3 linked regions of the Homo sapiens genome follow. The main gene of each other region encodes a partner of the protein of the gene in region 3 in a complex. Each region holds a gene or a part of one and is shown on either strand. Other genes may lie near its edges.

Region 1 (7,038 bases), on a different chromosome or scaffold from region 3:
CAACCTCAGAATAGGACCACTGTTCTAGACTACTTTTCCACAGCACTCTTTGCCCTGCTATCCTTTATAGGCTGAAGTGTTCAACAGTCCCCAGAGCACTGCAATGGAAGGCAACCTCACCTTTGTCTTCATAGCTCCATTTCTGCTGCAGCTTCAAGAAACCCAGGAGCATTTCAAGGATTGTCCGCCGCTGGCTGCTCTGTAACGTTTCAAGGGGTACTAGAGTCAAAGAATATTTTAAAGGATTTCAATCCTGCTACTCTGGATATAGGGAAAATTCTTTCTTTCTTCCAAGAGATGGGGGTTTTGCTATGCCACAGCCAGGCTGGAATACAGTAGCATGATTATAGCTCCCTGCAGCCCCGACCTCCTAGGTTCAAGTGATTCTCTCGCCTCAGCCTCTTGAGTAGCTGGGACTACAGATGCGTGCCACCTTATCCAGCTAATTTTTTTTTTTTTTTTTTGTAGAGATGTGGTCTTGTCTTGTTGCCCAAGCTGGTCTTTAAATCCTAGCCTCAAGTGATTGTCCTGCCTTGGTCTCCTAAAGTGCTGGGATTACAGGCATGAACCAGCATGTCCTGCTTGGCTAATTTAAAAAAAATTTTTTTTTTTTTAGAGATGGGATCTCACTTTGTTGCCCAGGCTGATCTTGAACTCCTGGCTTCAAGCTATCCTCCTGTCTTGGGAGAATGATCCTTTTATGTATGAGACAGGGAAAAAGTGAGTAAGGGAAGCAGCAGCAGCAGCTAATGGGAGCAAAACCCAAGGTCTACTATGTTGGCCCAAGCTAAAACTTAGCTCACTCTCTGAGAAAGGGAACCTAGCACACAGGTCCCATCATTTCCCCCAAAGATTCTGCTCCCTTACCTGACTGTGCTTGTGGAACTGTTCCAGCAGTAAAGGCAGTACATTGCTGGTGACAGAGTCACAGGCCCGGGCAGATGCACCTGCAGCTGCCTGCAACAGCTTGGCACTAGGCCACACCAGTTTCATGTCCGGTTCACACAGGTGGTGCCTGCAGTCTAGAGAAGCAGCACATCACAGAGCTGGGGAGGAGGCCAAATGGTGCCTGACTCCCCTACAGTCCACAGAGGTTGGAGACTGAGACCCATGACAGTTTGCAAGCAGTTAACACTCAAATTGTTTTCAATTCAAAGTAGGGCTATCGCCCCCAAATCACCAAATATGTTGGGACTAAACAATAAAGGTCACTGGCCCTTAAGGAATGTCATTTGTTTTTTTTTTAGAGATGGAGTTTTGCTCTCGTTGCCCAAGCTGGAGTGCAGTGGCGCAATCTCAGCTCACCGCAACCTCTGCCTTTTCAAGCGATTCTCCTGCCTCAGCCTCCCGAGTAGCTGGGATTACAGGCGTCCACCACCACGCCCGGCTAATTTTTGTATTTTTAGTAGAGACGAGGTTTCACCATGTTGGCCAGGCTGGTCTTTAACTCCTGACCTCAGGTGATCCACCCGCCTCGGCCTCCTAAAGTGCAGGGATTACAGGCGTGAGCCACCGCACCCAGGCAAGGAATGTCGTTTCTATTGTGCTCACTCCCCTTCCTGGCTGCCACGGCCCCATTACCCTGTAGAATGTTGCTAAGGAAGGAGTCAAGGAGGTCCTCAGCATCAGCCCTCAGCACAGAGCGAGACAAACACGCAGTCAGGGAGTGGAGGGCCGCCAGGCCCTCTGCCTCCACCCGCTCACTTGCCGTCTGGAACACCTGTCAGGGAGGGATCCCATGGCTACTGAGGTGAGCCTGCACCAGATGAGACCCCACCAATCCACTGCCTATTTCCTTGTTGGAGAGGGGAGTGAGAACCTCTAGGACACAGAAATGGAAATTAACACCCCAACTGAGTGTCTTCTCAATTGGTGTGTTCTTACCAAGTCCTTAGTCACACTCAGGACAGAGACACATACTTTCTGAGAAACAAAAAGCCAACTCTGAGCAGTGGCTCTGCTCACCTTTCTATTCACCATGGTGCCAAAGGCACCATGACCTGCACTCCTTGCCACAGAAGGACAAGAAGTGGGTAATGTGCAAAGGTGATCAGCTGCTCTTACCAAGCAGCTGACCGTCACATAGGGACTCTCTCTCTTGTCATTCAACTAGAATTATGTCCCCCTACTTGCCTCCTGAATAACCAGGCATTATATCTTGGCCCTGGGGATGACAGAGGGAAAAGGACAGGATGTATTATTTCCCCTCATGCCTGACAATTGAAAGTTAACAGTAGTGAGTTTATCTGAGTGACACTCACCTCTCTGCGGATAGAAGCCCAAAGGCTGGGGAGGAAGTCCTTCAGTTCCTTCTGTCCATACACAGCACAGCAAGCATTCTGCCAAGGAAACCGCTGCTATCAGTTATGTACACACTCAGACACCCTAGGATGTGCAGGTACCTCAGCATAATGGCACCTGAAGGAGCCCTGGTCTCAGCAGAAAAACCAGTTAAGATTTTTAACAGTCCTACTAAGGGAACAGAGAAGTAGGAGATAACCCTGGTTGATAAAATAGAAGCCTAAAGAGGGAGTCCTGGTCAGCCTTTCCTCAGTTACTATGGGATGGGGGATGGGACACGACGATATGCAGCTGGGGGCTTCAGGTCGACACAAAGGCCCAAATCCTGGGTATCCTCTTCTGAGGCCCATGAACTGTTCCTTGGCTATCCTAGAATCTATATCCTTTAGGACCCCTAACTTGTCAAAAGGTAGCTGGGTCCTGCAAGGAGAAAAATCACTCACCAGAGTCTGTAGAGAATCCAACTTGGCACTCAGAACCTCAGAATCCACTTTCTCAATCAACAGGGGCAGCAGAAACTGTGGGACAGAAGGAAGATCTTAAGCCTGAGATGGGTGGTGTGTCAGTCACATCAAGGTCAACCCTGTCCTTGCCATCAGTCCCTAAAAGCAGGTACTACATCAAGGAGCTGTACTCAAGTCAGGAGCTATGAATGTAAGCTAACCTTCCTGCCAAGCAGTGACCAGAGCCCCACTACCTCAAAAACAGGCAAGTTGACAAAGTTACAGGATTTTAAAAGACAGCACCATATAGGGATTGGGTTTATTTATTTTTTTGTGTAGCGGAGACGAGGTCTCCCTATGTTGCCCAGGCTGGATTTGAACTCCTGGGTTTAAGTGATCCTTTCCACTCAGACTCCTCCTGAGTAGCTGGAACTATAGGTGTGTGCCACTGAATCCAGCTCTGGATTATGAAGAGATGGTAAAGTTTTCTACATCGAAGGTCTGAAGATACCTGCCACACAAGACACTTGCAGGGTGTCATGCCCTAAAATGTATACCAGATATTTTTTTCTCCATGCTTTTACTGCTCTTTCTTCAGAGCCATCTATGGGCAGAGGCTATATACCCTAACCTTGGCTAGACCCACCTCAGCAAATCGTGGTGTAGAAGCCAGCACAGCGCGAAGACTCAGGATGAGGTCTTCTCTCTGGATACCATGGGGATCATTAGGTGGCTGGAAAAGGGAGAAGGGCTGTGGGTTTGTGTAACATTTCAGACCACCTTGAACACAGGCTCGAACCTGGTAACCCTGCAGAACAGGGTGATACTCATACCCAATCAGGGAAGATAGTAAGATAATGAGGCCCCAGCAAGAAGACTTGCTTGATCTTAGGTACTCCTTGGGAACTTTTGTCTTTAGGCATTTTAAAAAATCTGATTACACATTTTCTATCATTTCACCACTCAGAAATAAGCATGCTTAACTTTCTGGTGTATTCCTTTCTTCGCTGATATATATTGTTACTATGTGCTAGTATATACTGTTTCCATATAAAATATATATATACTTAAAAATCATTTTGTACATGTGGTTTTTAATTTTTTTCACTTAACATATTAAGAACATTTTTATGGTATTATTCTTTCATAGCATTAGTTTTAGTGGCTATGATTTCATTTTGTGGTTGTACCAGTTTATCTAGATAATTCCTTGTTGATGGACATTTCCATTTTTTTCACCCTTATAAAAAGCTGTAATTCTGAAAACAGAAAGCCTTGATGGTTTCTGTACCAAGACGACAGACTGAAAACATATATCAGGTTTTCCTTTTCCTCTTTGCAAACTCCACCAAAAACATAGTAAAAGAAGGGATTTACTATTATTATTATTATTTTTTTTTGAGACAGAGTCTCACTCTGTCACCCATGCTGGATTGCAGTGGCTTGATCCTAGCTCAGTGCAACCTCCACCTCCTAGGTTCAAGTGATTCTCATGTCTCAACCTCCCAAGTAGCTGGGGTTACAGGCGCACCAACACACCTGGCTAATTTTTATATATTTTTTGTAGACATGGGGTTTCATCATGTTGGCCAGGCTGGTCTGGAACTCCTGACCTCGAATGATCCACCCACCTCAGCCTCCCGAAGTGCTGGGATTACAGGCGTAAGCCACCGAACCTGGCCTGGTTTCTGTTTTCATGACTGGACTTTGATAGAAAAGATAAAACTGTGGAATTCTCTTATAAAGTAACAAAAAGACAGAGGTACAAAATAGAAAACAAAAGGTCAGAAAATCAGAGGTCCAACAGAAGATTAATGAGAGTTCCAAAATGAAGGAACAGAGAAAAGAGAGAGGAAGAAATCATCAATTAAAGAATTCAAGAAAAATTTACAGGACTAATGGACACGGGTTACCAGATTGACAGGGCCTACTAAGTACCCAACACAGTACATGAAATAGACCAATACTAAGGCACATCACTGTGAAGTTTCAATGTATCGGGGTGAACCAAACATCAGTTTATAGAGAGGAAGAAAAAAATGGTAAATACAAAAGTTTATGAAACAGAAGAAATTCAGACTTCTCCACAGCAAATGAAAACTAGATAACTAGGCTTATTTATTTATTTGAGATGGAGTTTTGCTCTTGTTACACAAGCTGGAGTGCAATGGCACGATCTTGGCTCACTGCAGCCTCTGCCTCCAGGATTCAAGCGATTCTCCTGCCTGTCTCCCGAGTGGCTGGGATTACAGGCTCACGCCACCATGCCCGGCTAATTTTTTTGTATTTTTAGTAGAAATGGGGTTTCACCATGTTAGCCAGGCTGGTCTTGAACTCCTGACCTCAGGTGATCCGCCTGCCTTGGCCTTTCGAAGTGTTGAGATTACAGGCATGAGCCACCACGCCCAGCCAATAACTAGATTTAAATGTAGCAATGCCTTCAAAATCTTAGGAGAAAATAATTTCCATTTTTTTTTTGTTTTTGTTTTTGGTTTTTTGGTGACTGAGTCTGGCTCTGTCTTCCAGGCTGGAGTGCAGAGGCATGATCTTGGCTCAATGCAACCTCTGCCTCCCCAGCCCAAGCCATCCTCCCACCTCCACCTCCCGAGTAGCAGGGGCTACAGACTCGACCACCACGCCCAGTTAATTTTTGTATTTCTTATAGACAAGGTTTTGCCATGGTGCCCGGGCTGGTCTTGAACTCCTGAGCTCAAGCAATCCACCTGCCTCAGCCTCCCAAAGTAGCGGGATTACAAGCGTCAGTTACTGCACCTGGCCTCTTTCTCAGGTGCAATCATAGTGCACTACAGCCTCAAACTCCTGGCCTCAAGTGATTGTTCTGCCTCAGCCTCACAAGTAGCTGGGACTGCAGACATGTGCAACTGCATCCAGCTAGAATTCTCTTTTTATTTATTTTTTTTTTTGAGATGGAGTTTTACTCTTGTTGCCTAAGCTGGAGTGCAATGGCGTGATCTCGGCTCACTGTAACCTCCGCCTCCCAGGTTCAAGCAATTCTCCTGCCTCAGCCTCCCAAGTAGCTGAGATTACAGGCGCCTGCTACCACGCCTAGCTAATTTTTGTATTTCTAGTAGAGACGGGATTCCACCATGTTGGTCAGGCTAGTCTCGAACTCCTGACCTCAAGTGATCCACCCGCCTCGGCCTCTTAAAGTGCTTAGATTACAGGTGTGAGCCACTGCGCCCGGCCTAGAATTTCTATTCTTGAATTACATGCCCATAATGTCAAAAATGAGAGACAAGATTGAAGGCATTTAAGGGTTACAAATCTAAAAAATTCTCACTTCTTCATACATTCTCTCAGGAAAATACTAAAGGAAGTACACCATCAAACTGAGGGGGTAAACCACAAAATGAGGAATATGTGAACTCAGGAAACAGGAGATCTGATCCAAGAAAAAGGATAAGGGAATCTAGGATGACGGTGAAGGAAGAACCAATATCTACTCTGCATTAGGAGTAAAAATCAACCTGTTGACATTGTTTGGCTAAGAATGGTTTTAACATTTTTAATGTTTGAAACAAACCAAAAGAATATCTTGTGACAAGTGAAAATTATATGAAATTCAAAGTTTAGTGTTGATAACAAAAGTTCTATTGGGATATAGCTACTGTAGCTGTTCCTGTGTCTAAGGCTGTTTTTGTGCAGTAACAGCAGAGTTGAGGAGACCATATGACCCACAAAGCTACTGTCTGGCCTTTTATAGAAAAAGTTGGCCAGGCATGGTGGCTTATGCCTGTAATCCCAACACTTTGGGAAGTCGAGGCAGGTGGATGGCTTGAGCCCAGGAATTCAAGACCAGCCTGGGCAACATGGCAAAATCCTGTCTCTATAGAAAAATACAACAATTAGTCGGGAGTAGTGTCATGTGCCTATGGTTCCAGCTACTCGGGAGGCAGGGGTGGGAGGATCACCAGAGTACCAGAGTCCAGAGAGGTGGAGGCTGCAGTGAGCTGTGATGGTGCCACTACACTCCAGCCTGCCTCAAAAAAAAAAAAAAAAAAGGGAAAGAAAAAGTTTGCCAACCTCTTCTTAGAGTGAGCATATAAGCATAGTGAAGAAACTGAACCTTAAGCTCATCAGATCCACTATGATGGCACACAATACTGATTTGTGGCTGGATATGTGGCTCACACGTGTAATCCCAGCACTTTGGGAGGCCGAGGCAGGTAGATCAGTTGAGGTGAGGAGTTCGAGACCAACCTGGACAACATGGCAAAACCCCATCTCTACTAAAAAATATAAAAAAAAAATTAGTCAGGCATGGTGGCACGTA
Region 2 (4,812 bases), on a different chromosome or scaffold from region 3:
TGGATTCCTACAGAATAAGCAATCCAAGAGCCTAAGGTGAAAACAGCAATACCTTTTATGATCTAGCCTCAGAAGTCACCCATTGTCACTCTGCCATTCTTTATTAGCCACACCCATCAGCTCCAATTCAATATGGAAGTTAACTATACAAGGGCATGAATACCAGGAAGTGAGGATCTTGGGGGCCATGTTGGAGGCTACTATACTTCACATGACCATTAACCCCTAAAACAAACCAAATGAAGGACAGATAAAGTGCGGACCATACATTTAGGTTGGTTTAATCAAAACTTCTTTGGTGGACTTCTTGATCTTCAAAATTGTGTATGCCATCTAGCCTTCTCCACATTTGTTCCTTATCTATGAAAGGGTCCAGGACTCTCCTTGGAAGGAAGGAAGGCCCAATCTTAAGGGTTCCTTTTGGTTCTCAGATCTCTGATTCTACAAAATAATCAGCAAAAATAAAGCTTTGAAGATATCCTTTAGGAGTTGACATTTACACTGGAATTTACAATTCAATAAAAACAGTGAGTCATTATAAGAATCATCTGCTTATTTATTTTACAGAGTAATGATTTAAATTGAGTACATTTGGGCACAGTAGATATTTGACACGAAAAATAGTTGTATCAGAATGAGCATCAGAAAAATAGCAACTCATCTTGCACATAATAACTAGAAAATATTATTCTGTCTGATCATTTAAGTGTTACAAATCCTGAGAATGTTATACATTGAACAAATTAGGTACTACCTTATAATTAAATCTCGCTTGGAAAGAATCCTTTAAAAAATACTCTGAGGTACAAATCACCTATGTATTAAACATGAGTCTCTGACATTATACAAAGAGTTTAAACAAATATATCAAACAATTACAGGCCAGTGGCTCTTAAAACAGCTATCAGTCAGGTTCAAGGACACACTGTTCCACAATTTCCCGTAAGTTGGGGTTTTCCATTGCAGCTGCCACTCGCTCTTTGTCATTTATCTGCTTATTGACTGAAAAATACACAGACAAAAGTTAGCAGAAGAACTGTGTCAATATACAGCACCAGACAGTATTTTTATTAGCCTGCTGAAACAAAAACTTTAACTCCTTGAGAACTTAAACCTGTTTTTGGCTAATTACTCATAATGTAATTTCCCATCTAGAAGGCAGACTTAAGAGAAAAATATCTACTAGAATTCTACTACTTAACCACATCTATTTTTTTCTTTCCAGTCTTTGTCCATACACATATTTTTATACAGTTACATTCAGAGTAAATATAATTTTGAAAATTGCTATTTTTTCCCCCATAAGCCTATATTTTAAACTACAGGGTTATTTAACATGGTAAAAGTCTTAAGTGTTCTAAAGTAATTATGAAGACTATGCTACAATGAATACCTTTAAACATATAGCCTTCTTTTTGGAAATATTCTCAAAAATGGGATTATTTTTAAGAGTATGAATATTTTTATGGTGTGATTCATATCATTGATTTACTTCCTAAAATTACTCACCAGTTTATATTGTCAACACCAATACATGAGCTATCAGTTTGGCAACAATACCTGGTATTATTATCATTGTTATTATTATTCTTTGAGACAGGGTCCTGCTCTGTCATCCAGGCTGGAGTGCAGTGGTGCAATCATAGCTCACTGTAACCTCCAACTCCTGGGCTCAAGAGATCCTCCTACCTCAGCCTCCCACAGGCATGAACCACCACACCTGGCTAATTTTCAAATATTTTCGTAGAGACAGGGTCTCACCATGTTGCCCAGGCTAGTCTTGAAATCCTGGCCTCAAACTCCTTCCCTCAAGGCATTCTCTCGCCTTGGCCTCCCAAAGTGCTAGGGTTACAGGTGTGAACCACCATGCCCGGGCAATAGCTGGTATTATTTAATAAAAACAAATACACATATATACATACATAAAACAGGAGATGGAAAACGGCTCAATATTATTGTCATAATTTGCATTTCCTTGACTAATAGGAAAATAGAACATTTTCCATGTGCATATATTAGTTCTTCTTGCATGAATTTCCTGTTCATGTCTCTATTAATCTACTAGATCTTTTTTTAAAATTAGTTTGAATGGATCTTCATATAATAAAGGTATTGGCCCATTATGTTTTCTGTAATTAGCTAACAGCATTCTTAATAGAAGAGTTCAAAAGAGAGACGACTATATTCTTAATGTGGATTGAGTTTTCTGGGCTGCCGCTGAAATGTCTCATGTAGAAGACACACAAACATACACATATTCCTGCGAAAATACTTTCAATTTGGTTTCTTCCTACTACAATGTAGGCTCCACAAAGGCAGGAATGTATCTCAAAGGCTGAACTGTACCCACACATAGAAGGCACTTAATAAATACTTACTAAATGAAAAACAAGACTCATAAGACTTAATACTATTGCTGCTGTAAAATCCTATCATTCAAGGAATTTCAAAACGATAACCTGAGTGGATTTAGGGTACCTAAACTCTTATTTTTCTAAATTACAGGTAGAAGCCCTCAGCTCGTGGGGTTTAAAGAAATTCAGCCCACAAAGAGTATAATAATCTACATGTCTAGAACTATAAATAGGGCATGGTTTTTAACAGTTTTCATGACAGTACCTAAAAAGTTTCCTGGATAGGCTGTTCCTCTGGAAGCAGCAGGCTTCCCTCTCTATAGCTCTCTTTTATGTAGGAGATTTTGTGTGTCTCTCTCCAGCCCTGTGTATGCCTTTCTGAGTCTTCTTGGTATCTATCTCACTGTTGCTCTTCCTCTATTAGCTCTTTCTTCCATTCCTCTGCTATTTTTTCCCACCTTCTCAATTTACTTAGTGATGAAACTTAAGTACAACATGCCTTTTAAATGTATTTCTCATTATTTGCACTCTATCATTTGTAGATTAAAAACATTAAAATTATGTTTTTAATGTAACACAGGGATCATACAGAACATTTTGTTTTTTGCTTTTCCCAAACCCCACTTCTGCTATTTTTAAGTAGCTACTGATTGATTTCTCTCTGTAGGCCAGAGGTCCTCTATATAAAAAAGGTTCCCCACTCCCATTCTAATATACTAACCCAGAGAGACAGCACCTACCCCAAGATTCACTAAAGCTCTACTTGCTAGACCTTCAATTTCAAGTACACAGCTCTCTATCCTGTCACCAAAGAAAAGAAGCCTACTTAGAGCTCATAAGTCAAGGTCCCCAGCACTGGATATTCTTTACAGATGTGTAGCCACTGGCCTAAACCAGTCAACATCCGTGGGCTCTAGTGCACTCGGAGTCCACTGCAAAAATTACTTCTTTGAAATGCCTAGGTTTCCTCACCTAGGAAGGAAGAGCCAATAACCAATTGTGCACTTTTTTGAAAGTAACCCAGTAGATTCTTGGCTGGCAGAAGAATCCAGTATCCAAGATAAAATACTATCTGAAGTTGTTTTTCAATTATGTTTCAACATTCACTTACTGTCTTCTTCTGTTGAGTGGGTTCCTTCAGAAATGTAGATTTCCAACTGGAAAGTGGGAAAAAAAGTAAAAGAAAAAACATTAATGCATTCTAAGATAAGAGAGTGAAGTGGAATGTACAGTAAATTCAAACATCTAGGGATGAGTGCCCAAATCCTGTTTCTTTTTTTTTTTTTTTGAGATGGAGTCTCACCCTGTTGCCCAGGCTGGAGTGCAGTGGCATGATCTCGGCTCACTGCAACCTCCGCCTCCTGGGTTCAAGCAATTCTCCTACCTCAGCCTCCCAATAGCTGGAATTACAGGCAGACGCCACCACACCCAGCTAAGTTTTGTATTATTATTTTTTTTTTTTAGTAGAGATGGGGTTTCGCCATGTTGGCCAGACTGGTCTCAAACTCCTGACCTCAGGTGATCCGCCTCGGCTTCCCAAAGTGTTGGGATTACAGGCGTGAGCCACTGCGCCCAGCGCCCCCCAAATCCTGTTTCTAACATCAGAGACATAGGGACAAATCCCCCACATCCTTCTCTAAAAAAAAAAAGGACTGAAATGAGTAGGATTTTTTATTTTGTTCACCTGGAAAAGGCCTGCAGGTGGTATTTCCATTAATTTTTTTATGAATACACAAAAATATCATTTTACACAAATGAGATCTCATATGTGTGGTTTTACTTAAGAATATCTCTTTTCTGCACTCTACTTCTTCCCAACTCGGTATCTAAACTTCCTCCTGCCCTGCTACTGACTCAGGAAATCTACAATAACAATCTAGTGTGGTTTCTTCCATATTCTTCTCTTTACCCACATAATCTTACACAGATTTTACACACACACACACCCACATATCAGGGTTGGAAGTTTCTTCACATTGCTTGTTTTACAAAAATGGGATCACAATATAGTTTTCAGCATCCTTCTTTTCTCATTCATTATTATCATGCTAAATTTATTCTCAAGTATAATACTGGTTAAGCTATCCCTCCTGGCCCTGCTGCACCTATAGACATGAGCTACCCTCCAAGACCCAGAGCTTTTAAGACAACCTACAAAATTATTGCAAATCCTGTGGTAAAGAGAGTATGCTGTAATAAAGACGTCTACTTTCCAGAGAACACTGGAACATATGAACTAATTTTTATTTACTTATTTACTACGGAGATAAACATTTCTCATGAGTGAGAAAAATCATAACTTATTATAGTTAAAAGGGACCTTAAAGGTCATCTAGTCCAATCTTTTTTTTTTTTTTTTTTTTGAGACAGGTCTTACTCTGTCGCCTAGGCTGGAGTGCAGTGGCGCGATCATGTCTCACTACAGCCTCGACTTCCTGGGCTCAGGTGATCCTCCCAC
Region 3 (7,079 bases):
CAGACTTCTCTTGCCCTTAAACGTTCCTATGTCCTGGGCACCTCAAAGGAGAACCTAACTTACCTTCCCTCACCCTCATCTTCAACTGATTATGAGTCTGTGTCTCCGTTCGTGTCCCCATCCCTGCTTATCTGCCTTACACACTATAGCCAGACTGGCGTTTCTCAAGCAGAATTCCGAGGAAACATCCCTGTTCTGTTGCAGACTGTATGTAACTACTTTGCGTGCCTGTGAAGGCCACCCACCAGCCGACCCAACCCACTTTATTCCTCTCCAAACCCCAGACGTCCTATGCCCCATTTAAATGCATTACCACCCCTCAGTCTAAGCATTCCCGCCATTGTTATCTTTACTCACACTGTTGAGTTTTCACTTGAATTCTCACGTGAAATTCTCATGTTAAAATCCTACATACCCTTTTAAATTCAGATGAAACAACCCATTCTACAAAACTTTCCTGATTCTTCCAGCACTCTATCCAGAGCCCTCTTGTAGCACATCTTACCTTTTACCCCCATTTGCTCTGACTCATGTACGTGTCTTAGCAGACTGTGAACCCCTTGAGAGATGGGTCTTCTTTAGCTCTACTAATGGACCTCACCTTGTTCATTGCCTGGTAGATACTGACGCCAGATACGCACAGTACGGTCATCACTACAAGACGCCAGGCGCTGGCCACTCGGGTCAAAGGCCAAGCTCCACACAGTGGATTCATGGCCCTCAAGGGTGGCACAGCATACCCAGTCATCCTCTTCCTCCCGGTACAGCTTCACTGTGTCATCATAGCTGGCAGAAGCTAAGAGCTGGGGGAAGAGTGAAAGGAAACCCAACATGTGTCTGTGTGGCCCAGGAAGCAAAGGACAGGTCAGTTCCAGGTATCTGCTTTTATTTTATTTTATTATTTATTTGAGATGAAGTTTGCTGTTGTTGCCCAGGCTGGAGTGCAATAGCACGATCTCGGCTCACCGTAACCCCCGTCTCCTGGGTTCAAGTGATTCTCCTGCCTCAGCCTCCCGAATAGCTGGGATTACAGGCATGTGCCACCATGCCCGCTAATTTTGTATTTTTAGTAGAGACGGAGTTTCACCATGTTGGCCAGGCTGGTCTCGAACTCCTGACCTCAGATGATCCACCCACCATGGCCTCCCAAAGTGCTGAGATTATAGGTGTGAGCCACCACACCCAGCCGGATCTGTTTTTATAAAGGGACTAATGTTTTTTGTTCACAGATGGAACTCTCCGTAAAAGCTAGATTAAGGCTGAAAAGCAGAGGAAGGCTGGGCACAAGCCTGCACACCAGAGCCCTTCCCACAAGAGTCCCTGCTTGACTCTTACCTCCTGACTTGGGTGCCAAACCACATGCTTGACATCCTGTGTGTGGGAGTTGAGAACACTGACACATTCATACTCATCCTCTTCATCAACTGTGGGAGAGAAAAAGGGGACCCAAGAGCCGACCCTGTCAGGGACACAGAGGGGGCTGTCAGGTGGTTCCCAATCCACCTGGAGGGACCTGGCCTCACCTTCCCAGACCCAAACGCTCTTATCTCGGCTGCAAGTGGCCAGGAGGTTGCCAGATGGGGCCCAAGCCACTGACTTGACCTCATTTTCATGGCCCTCGAGAGTGGTTACACACTGTGAAAGGGGAAAGAAAATGAGAATTAACAGCAGCTAACACCCCTAAGCCCCTTCCCATGGGTACAGCCCAACTGGCGCAGGTTGGCTCAGGTTCCTGAACCAGCCCTGGGGAGGAAACAGGCAATAATTCTGGTCCCAACCAGCCTGGGTACCTCAAAGTCATCCTGGTTCTTCTTCCAAATGCAAGTGGTAGCATCAAAGCTGGCAGAGGCCAGGTAATTACCGCAGGGGGACCAGGCTACCTTCCGCACGGTGCGCTGGTGGCCTTCAGAAAGGACAGACTTGCAGATCCAGCTGTCACCTAAAGGCGGAGCGCAGGCCAGGCTCTGGAGCTGGGTGCAGCACCATGAAGCCATTCAATATCAGGGGCTAGCACTGGAATCAAGCTAGTGGGGGAAAGCTCAGGGAGTGTATTTCACAGCTTTTACAAAGATGCAAATGAATCTACTTCGTCTGGAAGCTTTTTTTTTTTTTTTTTTTTTTTTTTGAGACGGAGTTTTTGCTCTGATGCCCAGGCTGGGGTGCAATGGCACAATCTCGGCTCACTGCAATCTTCGCCTCCTGGGTTCAAGGGATTCTCCTGCCTCAGCCTCCCGAGTAGCTGGGATTACAGGTGCCCGCCACAACGCCCAGCTAATTTTGTAGTTTTAGTAGAGACGGGGTTTCACCATGTTGGCCAGGCTGGTCTTGACCTCTTGACCTCAGGTGATCTACCCGCCTCTGCTTCCCAAACTGCTAGGATTACAGGCGTGAGCCACCGCGCCCAACCTCTGGAGGCATCTTTCTAAAACAAATCTGATCTAAAATTGCTATTGGTTCCCCAATGCCCTCGGGATAAAATGTGACCATCCAGTCGCAAGTTACTCTGAAGGCCACTTTCCTAACACCTCTCTTTTCCCATTTTCCTGCCTCTGCAGCTAACACAATTCCCTTGACATTTCAGCTTGTCTGCTGACGTTTTTCCTCCCAACAGTCGCAGACTTCTTTGCCTGTAAAGCCCTTCTCGGCGTGGCTAACATCCCACTCTCCCTCCGCCAGGAACAGGTTCAGCCTCCCCTGCAGGCTGAGCGCCTGCACTACGCGCAGGCTGAGCCCTCAGCGCTGAGGGCCGCGCAACCAGGCTGGGCCTTACCCTCCGTGCCCCAGATGCGGATTCTCCGGTCGCCGCCGCACGAGGCCAGCAGGGTCCCCGCGGGGTTCCAGGCCAGGAACCAGCAGCGGGAGTCCGGGTGCGCCGGGACACGGCCCAGCAGCACCAGCGAGTCCTTCATGTCGGCCCGACGCAGGGGGAGGTGGGGGCGGGCAGAGTCCGCTGAGCAGACAGCGGGTCTCACCGCGCGCGTCTGCGTACCGCCCACTCCAGGCTTCCGCGGCCGACAGAGGCTCCCGCTTCCGCCGGAGGACCTGGGTCGCCCCGGAAACTCAACTGCCCACTGCTGCGGCCGCCATACCCTCTGGGAGTTGTAGTCGCTCCCCTCACCTCGGCAGGGAAAGCATCGCGGGACCGCCTCGAACTACCAGTCCCGTGAGGCCCTGCGCAGAGCCGGCGGCGCGCCCAGGCTGTGACGCGCGCGGGGGACGGGGCGGGGAGCCGGAGGAGGCGGAGGCAGAGGAGGAGGAAGCCGGAAGTGCATCGGCCCCGGGTCTGTCCGGGCGTTGCGGGATTGGGGCCTGGGAACGCTCGGCCCCCGGCAGCCGAGAAGCCCGTGACTGGGCTGAGCAGCACCATCCCAGCCCTGGGGCCTGCTGACTGGTGAGGAACAGTGGGCGGCGTGGGGAGGGTCTTTTCTGCGCACAGGTCGCACCCCAAACCGCCGGTCCCAGATCACGGGTCCCCGATCCCCGCGGCCCAGCCCGGTCCTCCGCCCCTCGGCATCCTCTGGCTGAGACCCTGACTCCGGGTCTTTGCTCTAGCAGTAGCCGATCCCCGATCCCTCCGCCCCCCACTCGAGTCTGCCCAGACCCCATCTGGCCCCTGGCCCTCTTCGGTTGTCGTCCCGCAGTCCCATTCCGGAGTCTCCTGTCTCCGCCCCCCGAATTCCCGCAGCCCTCCCCGTCTCCGTCAGCCCCGGGTCCCACCCCCCTATCCTCTGGTGTCAACCCTGACAGCCCAGTCCCGGCTTCACCTGCAGCGAACCCGGAGCGTTGCTATCCTCCACCGGACTGTCAGGCTCTGCGCGCCCCGCGGAGGTCGGCGGCGACCAGCAGCGACTGCGGAGCGACGGCGGGCGGCCCCGGGCATGTACGCCCCCGGAGGCGCAGGGCTGCCCGGCGGGCGCCGGCGGAGGAGCCCGGGAGGCAGCGCTCTGCCCAAGCAGCCGGAGCGTAGCCTGGCCTCGGCCCTGCCTGGCGCCCTGTCTATCACGGCGCTGTGCACTGCCCTCGCCGAGCCCGCCTGGTTGCACATCCACGGAGGCACCTGTTCGCGCCAGGAGCTGGGGGTCTCCGACGTGTTGGGCTATGTGCACCCGGACCTGCTGAAAGGTGAGGGTGCTGCGCGCTGGCCCTTAAAGCCTCGGTGGGGGACAGAATGTGTTCTGGCTGAAGCAGAGATAGCCAGGGACCAGACACTTGGTTGAAGGAAACGGCCCCATAACTGCCTGGTGTTCATGCCCACCAGGTGGCTCTGTTTGGGGTCCGGCCCCTCATTAATTCTGATGTTATTCAGCTAAGCACCTACTCCTCACAGCCATGTTAATCCGGACTGCTGCTATTTTAGGATTCTGCTGGAGGAAGGACGCTGTGTATCGAGAAAAGATAAGGGTGCTAGGTATCACAGTTAGCTGGCCTCTTCTAAGGATCCTGTGAAATACGGAAAAGCTTCTTTGGGGCAGACTGATTAATGGAGAAAAAGGAACTTTTAATATGACTAGGTTTTAAAAGATATCTTAGAGTTCTATGGTAATCGGATGCGTATTAGAGAAGAAGGGAATCTGTGGCATTTTAGGTAATCGGAAGACCGTTCCATTGCCACCCGCAGTACAACAGTCGGAATGTGGCTCTTGGAACCATTATAGGTGTGCCTGACAGAGGCAAGGTTGCTTTGTTCATCATCATGCTTTCCGGCCAGATAGACAGCAGACGATGGGAGGGTCCTATGGGCCCCATAGTTTATCCTGCCCATTCTTGTCTCCAGTAAAAATTGTGAAGTGTGAGGACAGGACTGGACTGTATCACCTGCTTTTTACCCTAACAATGATCAATGTACCCCAAACAGTCCTTAGTAACAGCATAGTTCATCAACCCCAAGGTCTTTTGAGCCATCTTGAAGGTCTTATATCCTCTCTGTGCTATCCTGTCTGTGCTATTCCCTGGCTGTGATGCATTCCAGATGTTTACTGCACCGCCTATCAGAAGCACTTCCTGTTAGATATCTGCGTGTTACCTCCTGAAGAATTCAGGCACTGGGATTTGGTGAAAAGGTCCAAGTTCCCCGCTGTGCATCGGACCATACTCTGCTTCTGCAGGTCTAGGCTGAAAAGCCTCATCCTTGTGGCCAAATGTTGCCTTTCTCTGAGTGTTCTCTTACTGTTTTGCATCTCTCTTGAGTTTTAGAAGCTGTAGGGTGATTTTGTAGAAGGTTGGGGACAACTGGTTGTTTCCAGATTTCACCTTAATGGTACTCTTTGCTGGGTTGGCTCATTAAAGCCAAAGTTATGCACACGACAGAGGCCTTATATGCAGCCTTTTCTCTGTCATGTTGCTAATGGCACAAAGAGCATTAAGCTTGAGTGAGTCTTGGTGGTTTTTCTTTTAGCACATTGCCCTGTACTTGCTTTCTTTGAAGCACACATACCACCTTCCCACCACTAGACCCATCAGATCTAGAAAGCTAGATCTCCGAAATCTAGCACTGCATGGGGTGTGCTTAGCTGTGGCTCAGAAAAATGAAGGATCTCCCCAAGGCTACCCAGTTTAGGGTGGCAGAGCTGGGACTACCCCACCTCTGTTGATGCCAATATAAAATGATGCCGTGTCATTTATAGTTTTTATCCTTTGTTTTACTTCAGCTGTCATAAGGAGCAATCTCATAATTATTTCACTTTGGTGTGCATCCTTGTCGAAGGCATGTTAAAAATAAAAGTAAATTTTTGAGCCGGGCGTGGTGGCAGGCATCTGTAATTCCAGCTACTTGGGAGGCTGAAGCAGGAGAATCGCTTGAACTTGGGAGGCCGAGGTTGCAGTGAGCTGAGATCGCGCCATTGCGCTCCAGCCTGGGCAACAAGAGCGAAACTCCATCTCAAAAAAAAAAAAAAAAAAAGAAAGGCCAGGAACTGGCTCACACTTCTGATCCCAGCACTTTGGGAGGCCGAGGCGGGTGGATTGCCTGAGGTCAAGAGTTGGAGACCAGCTTGGCTAACATGGTGAAAGAAACCCTGTCTCTACTAAAAATACAAAAATTAGCTGGGTGTGGTGGCACACGCCTGTAGTCCCAGATACTCTGAAGGCTGAGGCAGGCGAATCGCTTGAACCCAGGAAGTAGAGGAGTTGCAGTGAGCCCAAGATCACACCACTGCACTCCAGCCTGGGCAACAGAGCAGAGCAAGACTCCATCTCAAAAAAAAAAAAAAAAGTAAATTCTTGGTGCAGGTTCTTCTTTGTTCACATGTGTATTTACCCTTTCTAAGAAATTATTCGGGCCAGGCCAGGCATGGAGGCTCACACCTGTAATCCCAGTACTTTGGGAGGCCAAGGCGGATGGATCACCTGAGGTCAGGAGTTCAAGATCAGCCTGGCCAACATGGTGAAACCCCATCTCAACTAAAAATACAAAAATTAGCCAGGCCTAGTGGCTGGTGCCTCAACTACCCAGGAGGCTGAGGCAGGAGAATCGCTTGAACCTGGGAGGTGAGGTTGCAGTGAGCCCAGATCACACTACTGCACTCCAGCCTGGGCTACAGAGTGAGACTCCATCTCAAAAATTAAAAAGAAAGAAATTATTCAGGCTCCGTTTTGTCTTTTGCAAAGCATGTTTTCTTAACCTTTACATTACATTTGCTCACATATTTAGAGACCTTAACCTGTGTATAGTTTCTACTTGCTTGCCTGTGGCCATCTCCTAAGAGCAGTTTGTGCCCATTAATAGGAGAGTTGGCAGTGGTGCCTCATGAGCTATCACAGAAGAATCAGTAAGGAATCCGGAAGTCCTTGATTGCATCTTCTCTCCCTTTTCTTTGTACCTACTGGTTTTTTGGTACCCAGTGGGCCTTCAGACATGTAGTATCCTGTGTGACTGTGCTGATCCTCAGGGCCTAACAGATATCCTGACCTGAGAGCCTGGAGTATTCCACATCTCAAGAGGGAGCAGAGCTGTCAAGCACAGATGTGGTGCATATAGAGTTTTTTTTTTTTTTTTTTTAAATGAGACAGACTCTTGCTCTGTCACCCAGGCTGGAGTGCAGCGGCGCCATCTCAGCTCACTGCAACCTCCGCCTCCCGGG

Evidence for each region. The genes of interacting proteins can lie anywhere in the genome.
Region 1: CIAO1 (region 3) and MMS19 share a complex: the UniProt entries of both Homo sapiens proteins name them as parts of the MMXD complex.
Region 2: CIAO1 (region 3) and CIAO2A share a complex: the UniProt entries of both Homo sapiens proteins name them as parts of the CIA complex.

What each region holds. Positions count from the first base shown.
Region 1 is NC_000010.11:97,467,385-97,474,422, forward strand, and holds part of MMS19 (MMS19 nucleotide excision repair protein homolog), read right to left. Parts: intron 3,478-7,038; coding exon 3,391-3,477; intron 2,820-3,390; coding exon 2,745-2,819; intron 2,340-2,744; coding exon 2,262-2,339; intron 1,743-2,261; exon of another isoform or gene 1,721-1,742; coding exon 1,582-1,720; intron 1,023-1,581; coding exon 868-1,022; intron 220-867; exon of another isoform or gene 200-219; coding exon 121-199; intron 1-120. UniProt on the Homo sapiens protein: Key component of the cytosolic iron-sulfur protein assembly (CIA) complex, a multiprotein complex that mediates the incorporation of iron-sulfur cluster into apoproteins specifically involved in DNA metabolism and genomic integrity.
Region 2 is NC_000015.10:64,072,027-64,076,838, forward strand, and holds the end of CIAO2A (cytosolic iron-sulfur assembly component 2A), read right to left. Parts: intron 3,512-4,812; coding exon 3,466-3,511; exon of another isoform or gene 1,003-3,465; coding exon 905-1,002; 3' UTR 539-904; downstream 1-538. UniProt on the Homo sapiens protein: Component of the cytosolic iron-sulfur protein assembly (CIA) complex, a multiprotein complex that mediates the incorporation of iron-sulfur cluster into extramitochondrial Fe/S proteins.
Region 3 is NC_000002.12:96,262,181-96,269,259, reverse strand, and holds the start of CIAO1 (probable cytosolic iron-sulfur protein assembly protein CIAO1), read right to left. Parts: upstream 3,036-7,079; 5' UTR 2,910-3,035; coding exon 2,771-2,909; intron 1,940-2,770; coding exon 1,791-1,939; intron 1,636-1,790; coding exon 1,524-1,635; intron 1,425-1,523; coding exon 1,336-1,424; intron 804-1,335; coding exon 602-803; intron 1-601. Other genes in the region: TMEM127 (transmembrane protein 127), read left to right, coding at 3,879-4,122. UniProt on the Homo sapiens protein: Key component of the cytosolic iron-sulfur protein assembly (CIA) complex, a multiprotein complex that mediates the incorporation of iron-sulfur cluster into extramitochondrial Fe/S proteins.